Homo sapiens: one gene and its partner. The gene in region 2 interacts genetically with the main gene of each other region. Each region holds a gene or a part of one and is shown on either strand. Other genes may lie near its edges.

Region 1 (3,500 bases), on a different chromosome or scaffold from region 2:
CACACTCCAGAGGAGGCACCTGACTCAGGTGCCCAGCTCACCTGTACACAGGGTGTGGCTGACAAACTGGACACACACTGCTGTCCCTGCTGGCCTCCAGCACCGAGTCAGGAAGCCACACAGCTGAGCGACACTCTGGGAAACCCATGCAGCTGAGGTAGAACCTGGGGACAAAGTGCCATGTCAGATGATAGGAGTGCAGGAGATGCTCTCCGCTGTTGGCCATCAGCTAAGGCAGCCTTTCCTCAGCTGCCCGAGGACAACATTCCCTTTTCTGGATGACACTTAACTGGATACACAAGCACTCATATTGAATTGATTGGGAAAAATGAGCCTTCTCACATCCCAAAAGCACAAAGCAGCTATTGCTGGCCCTGCTTTCTATTTAGAAAACCAACAACCAACCAAGCTGACGCCAGGGGCTCTGTGCTGTGCACTCACACATTCTTGCCTTTCTGCCTCGTGCCAAGTCTGGGCAGTGTCAGGGGCCCCCTCAGTTTGCATGTGAGTAAACAGTGGCTTGGTGTGGCCTGGAAACCTGCCCAGAGACATGCATGCATGTGTGGATGGGAGCCAGGAATGGAAACCCATCTGTTTGTGACAAAGCCTCACCTGCAACATCTACACCCCACCCACTGCCCATCCATCCCATCCCGGTCTCTCCTGGCCAATGTTTTTCAACACCTTGCAGTCATGAAACGTTAGGGTTTGACTAGCTAATATGCATGTGATTTACAAATTCCTCATGAGTGTGCCTGGGTACACTATGAAGGAAAAAAAAGCCCCGAACTCCAATCATTTAAATAAGAAATTTACAATCTCAGAAATGGAAATTAACAGATAAATCATGGAGTGGCAAATCCCACAAGATAATCTCCTGACCTTCTGGAGTAACTCAGAGAAGCATTACAAAAGAATAACAGAAGAACAAACGAATAACTAAAGAATAATAATAATTCTCCAATTCAGAGAATTGGAGAATTCAGAGCTAAAACAAAAGTAGTTATTCTCTCTCCTTATATTCCAATGAGTACTAATCCAATAACCTACCGATAGCAAGGAAAACCCATCGACAGCATTTATTAAGTGCTGAAATATACGCCCAGTCATTGGGCTAAGCCTAGAGTGGCACTGGCTTCTGTCTGTGAGTGACGCGAGCCCTGACACCTGCTTCCAGGTCTGGCCCATAGACCTCTTGTTTCTGAGAGCCTGGGTGGCCTTCTCTTCACTTGGGCCAGCCAGGTTAATGATGGCTGGAGGTGAGGAGTTGAGAAACCTCCTTTCTTATTCAGCAGCAAGGAGCACAGCAGTCCCAGGTGGGCCAGGCAGGATGGAAAAAGGCAGTGAAAACCCGGTTTCAAACTCTGCTGCCCACCACGGCTGCTTGACTCCAAGCAAGCACCTCAGCCCTCTAAGCTGCATAAAAATCCCTGCCTTGCAGGGTAGTTAGGAGAATGGGATGAGGTAATGCTTACAGAGCACCACCCTGCATTACACCAGTGAGGGACGGCACCTGATGAATGATGGCTGCCACCCCTCCACCTCGTCTTTCCCCGTGAACTTCCTCCAGTGGCCAGCCACTGGCTCCAACAACCTGATGTGAAGCTAAATTGCCCACTCAGATCTACTATATTTAAAGCGAAAAGGGAGTTGAGATTTTCAGGCCCCATTCAGAACTAAAACTAGGAGAGAACAAAAGTAGTATCTGCTGAGTATCTACAACACATCAGGCAATGTGCTATATAGTCCTGACCATTTTCACCAAATCCTCACCCTTAACACAGCCTTGTAAGTACTGACATTTTATAAAAGAAGAAATTGGGGTTCAGAGCAGGTAAGTAACTTGCTTCAGGCCACACCACTTATATGCGGCATAAGTGGCATTTGAACCCAGACCCACCTAGATCTGAAGCTCATGCTCCTCCATGTGTTACACATTGGGTATATGATGTCCTATCCACAGGGGACAAAAAAACCCCACTATCATTCAGTTTCTCACCTGCTCTGAATTCCCATAGTGCTTTACACCTCAAAGGCCTGATCCCACCCTGCTATGCTTTTAGGCCAACACCTTGCCTGCAGGTTGGCAACAACAGGCCTGTCTTGAAAGATTCCATGGAGTGAAATGGCAGGGTCTTTCGAGCTACGGCTGACACCGCAGGTGCTGGGGAGCAGAGGTGGGGGCAGAAGGCAGCGCACTCACCCGCCATTCTTCTTGGTCTTAAGGACCATGTCCTTGTTGCACTGTGGGCACTTCCTGATGGGCTCTGGCATGGCTGGGTAGATATCTTCTTGCTGGGCCAACTCTGTCCCATTCCCAAAGTACTGGGCCAAGGCCTCGTCCAATCTGAAGAAAAGGCAAAGACAGACACCCATCAGCCAGCAATCGCTGCAAAGGCACCTACAACACTCTTACATGCACACAACAGGCGTGACCTTGAGAACCAGCTGGTCAGTGAGCCGCAGGCCTCCTGCAGAGAACAGACGGCAGACAGAAGACTGAGCTCACCATGGGCCCTGGTGCCGAACCAACTCTTGGGAGGAGAGTCCAGATACAGGCAGATGCTTCTGCTTGTCACCAGCCCACATTAAAAAGTAAAACTGGGCCAAATGTGGTGGCTCACGCCTGTAATCCCAGGCCGAGGCGGGCGGATCACCTGAGGTTGTAATTTCGAGACCAGCCTGACCAACATGGTGAAACCCCGTCTCTACTAAAAATACAAAATTAGCCAGGCATGGTGGCGCATGCCTGTAATCCAAGCTACTCAGGAGGCTGAGGCAGGAGAATCGCTTGAACCCAGGAGGCAGAGGTTGTGGTGAGCCAAGATCACGCCATTGCACCCTAGCCTGGGCAACAAGAGCGAAACTCCATCTCAAAAAAAAAAAGTAAAACTGCACAGGGTCCATGTACAAACTCCAGGAGTGTCTGTCTGTATTAAGTCTAAACTAGCTCATGCCTGCCTTTTCACAACTGGCATGGGGTACTCTAAAGAACAGAAAATAACAAACTGTTATCTTCTATTACAGTCTCACAACACACATCAGACACCAGATGTATGGGAGTTTTCCCCATACACCAAGCAACTCTCCCGCCACACACCAGTTGGACATCCTCTAATTCAATTCAATTCTGACACTATGCACCTGGAGATCCATCTAACGGTTAAGGGCTCAGTCCCAGAAGACTGCTGCCCCAAATTCCCTCAGATGTCAGTCACAAATCCCAGGCTGTGACCTGTGCTTCTGACTGACTGGCTATAAACTGGGGTTCCTCAGACCCCCTCCTTGGTTTGATTCTCAATAGAGTGGCTCACAGAGCTCAGGGAAACACTTTACTTATGCTTACCCGTTAATTACAAAGGATCCAGGTGAATACCCAGATGGAAGCAATGCACAGGGCAAGGGATGTGGGGAAGGGGTAGCTTCCATGCCCTCTCCCAAACACCCACCCTCCAGGAGTCTTTACCTGTTTAGCTATTTGGATGTGCCCCAAACCCAAT
Region 2 (3,500 bases):
TCAGCCTCCCAAATAGCTGGGACTACAGGCATGTGCTACCACGCCTGGCTAATTTTTTTTGTATTTTTAGTAGAGATGGGGTTTCACCATGTGGGTCAGGCTGGTCTAGAACTCCTGACCTCAAATGATCTGCCCACCTCGGCCTCCCAAAGTGCTGGGATTACAGGCGTTGAGACACCGCGTCCTGCCAAAAAATTATGGTAATGTTTTATTGCACGTTTGGGTAGAAATGACAAAGTTTTTGGGGTCCCTGCCTTTGAGATGCTTTTACTTGTAGGTGGTGGAGACAATCAAACACAAATTGCACAAAGCTATAGGAGAGGGGGGATAGACCAATATTTATCTAAGACCGCACTGGATGTTAGATATTGTCAACTTATAGATGTGAATATATTTTTACATTTTTCACTAGGGAAATGTTGCTTTTGGACGTGTACATATAGAACTAATTGAAGTATTGAAGCCAAATCTGGGAAGGTTTCTTTTAGGAAGAAAAGAGCAAGTGGAGACACAATATTTAAGACTTTTGGAATTGAAAGGCATAAGGGACAGATAAAATTACGAAGCTGGTTTGAAGGGAATACAGATAGAGGTTGTTGAGTAGTGTTAGGGTCAGTTGTGTTTGTGTAGACACATGATTACAGTTCAAAGAAGCAACTGAGAAGAGTGTTCCTGAGAGTAATTTCAGATGACTGGGGAGAAATTACATTTTAGGTAAAAGCTGTATGCCTGGATTAGGATTTTGTTTTTCTAGGGAACCAACATTTTTATTATATCGTGGCTATCCAGGGCTATACAGAAGGAGGAGTGAAAAAGAAGATGCTTAGTGTGTTGAAAGTGGCTTCTTACAAAAAAGAGTTTAGAAATGGGACAGTAGACTTTGCTTTGGATGTGAAATTTTAGGGCAACAATTGGATACTGGTGCAGTTTCAAAACAGCAAAATAGTTTAGCAGGTAATATACTGAAAATGTAAAGTTGGAATTATTTTCAAAGTATTTAGGTTTCCCAGAGTACTGATGGAAAGTGAAGAGCTGAAAAGTGGGTATTTTTAGTTAGGGGGAAAATCTGAATGAATGAGACACTACCTAAAATAGATGTTTTAGAAGTGGATAAGAGTTGAAGTTAAAAAGGAATGAGCAGGCTTTAAACATGGCCACCAGTTTAGTCCCAGGGTATATTATTCTGTATTTTTGAAACAAGCTAAAATTTTTTTTTTTTTTTAAATAGGGTATATAGGTCCCTTGAGATTAAGTTCAGAAGAGTATACTTAATAATAATTTCATTGTTAAGGAATTTATAAATAGAAGGACAGATTTGTTTCCTCAAATTCATGTTTTAAAGTTCACTGTGCATTATTATCCTACGTTTGGTCTTGATATGACGAAGTGAGGCCAAAAATAGCTGACAGAGAAGGCTGCTTCCCTTGTTCACAGTTGGTGTGTGTCTTTGTGTCCCATACAATGGAGGGGATATCCCTGTGTAGGCACAGTAGTGCTGAACATGCTTTTTTTTTTTTTTTCCTTTTAAACTTTTTATTAAAAAAAAGCAACTTGGCATTTAAAAAAATGTAGACATTTTTGCGGCTTGCATTTAGTATTGACTTTAACAGGATTAAGGATTGTGAGGAAGGAAATATATATTCACACTTTTTTGTGTTCCTTAGTTGGAATTCTGCACCTTCCTAGTAGCTTCTCTGACTTCTTAACAGTGATTATTCAAATGGCAGAAACTCTGGGGAAGAGATGTTTCAACAAGGAGATAGGTCTAAGGTGATTCTAGGGTGAAAATATAGGGATTGGATTATATGCCATATGGAGGCCTTCTCTTGTCATCCTCCACTTTCCACAACATTTTTTGTGCAGTCGAAGCCATGTTCAGATGAATTTTAGAAGGCAGCCACTTATAGTTAATGTTATTTACTAGTGAGGACAGTGGGAAGAGTGGTAACTTCATGTACTTTGCCTTGGCAACTTTTGGATTGATAGGGAATTAGAGAGCCTTGAGGGTATATGTTTGTGTGTGTGTGTGTGTTTTAGCACCCACCAGATGACCCCAAAGGCCATGCATAGGCTCATTTCATTGTACTTTGGAGATGGTTCTTGGAGAAGTCTTCTGGTGCTTCTGACATCTCATTGTGTAGAGAAAGAGTTGGCAAACTATTTTTGTAAAGGGCCAGTTAGTAAATATTTTAGGTTTTACAGGCCACATGATCTGTCACAACTTTCAATTCTGTTCTTATAGTGTGAAAGCAGCTGTAGACAACAAGGAAGTGAATGAATGTTGCCGTGCTCCAATTGGCCCATAGGCCGAAGTTTTTGGACTCCTGGTATAGACAACTGCCAAATCCACCAACAAACAGTATGAGCTTTATTACACTACAAAGCCAGGACTGGCTATTTTTGGTGGTCTTTGTTTTCTAGATGAGATGTTTTTCTCTGAGTTCATTTAAAATGATTCTGCATAAAGCACATACTCTACTGTACAAAATACTTTTGCCTTCATGGTGATGAAAACTATGGATTGAGGGTCGGGGTGATACCATCTTTAAAGGGATGCAGCTAAAAAGTAGGGACTACCTGCATTTCTTATCTAAAGATAACCACAGTTGGCATTTAGTGATATACTGGCTTTGTATCATGGCCAAAAGTATCTGTAAAGAAGCTTGTGGGCATACTTTTGAAACCTTCTGAAAATAAATGTAAAGCATTTACTTCGTGTGTAAAATTAGAAGTGTCTATGGTTGGTTTGAATAATATGAGTCAAATTATAAGAGCATTAAAGTTTGATACTGCTATCTATTAAAGTCTTAATCTCTTGCAGTGGCTAATTCAGTGTGTAGAATTACACATCGCAATTTTTGTTTTGTTAATTTCAAGTACTAGTGTATATTAACAAATCACTTAAATCATTTAAATGTGTACTTTAAAAAGCTTTGATGTATATACATATATATACGTATATATATATATGTACACGTATATATATACACGTGTGTGTGTGTGTGTGTGTGTGTGTGTGTGTATTTTTTTTTTTTTTGTGACGGGGTCTCATTCTGTCACCCAGGCTGGAGTGCTGTGGTGTGATCTCAGCTCACTGCAACCTCCACCTCCTGGGCTCAAGTCATCCTCCTACCTCAGCCTCTCGAGTGGCTGGGATCACAGGCATGCGCCACCATGCCCGACTAATTTTTTTGTATTTTTGATAGAGATGGGTAACAACTTTTGGATTGATAGGGAATTAGAGAGCCTCGAGGGTATATGTGTGTGTGTTTTAGCACCCACCAGGTAACCCCAAAGGCCATGCATCATGTTGCCCAGGCTGGTCTCTTAACTCCTGAGCTCAGGTAATCCATCTACCTCGACCTCCCTCAGTGCTGGGATTGCAGGCGTGAGCCACCACACCTGGCCAGCATTGCTATATTTTTAAGAGTGAATCTTTCTCACATGTGTTGTTCAGAAAGTGTAATTCACTTTGTGCAATTTTACATTACAGTTAATAT

What was found. A genetic interaction does not mean that the proteins touch.
Region 1: changes in FBXW7 (region 2) and TOP3A together harm fitness more than expected from each alone (negative genetic interaction), as found in Homo sapiens cells (one large-scale study listed by BioGRID).

The regions. Positions count from the first base shown.
Region 1 is NC_000017.11:18,280,495-18,283,994, forward strand, and holds part of TOP3A (DNA topoisomerase 3-alpha), read right to left. Parts: intron 2,348-3,500; coding exon 2,204-2,347; intron 165-2,203; coding exon 42-164; intron 1-41. UniProt on the Homo sapiens protein: Releases the supercoiling and torsional tension of DNA introduced during the DNA replication and transcription by transiently cleaving and rejoining one strand of the DNA duplex.
Region 2 is NC_000004.12:152,529,593-152,533,092, reverse strand, and holds part of FBXW7 (F-box/WD repeat-containing protein 7), read left to right. Parts: intron 1-2,242; exon of another isoform or gene 2,243-3,500. UniProt on the Homo sapiens protein: Substrate recognition component of a SCF (SKP1-CUL1-F-box protein) E3 ubiquitin-protein ligase complex which mediates the ubiquitination and subsequent proteasomal degradation of target proteins.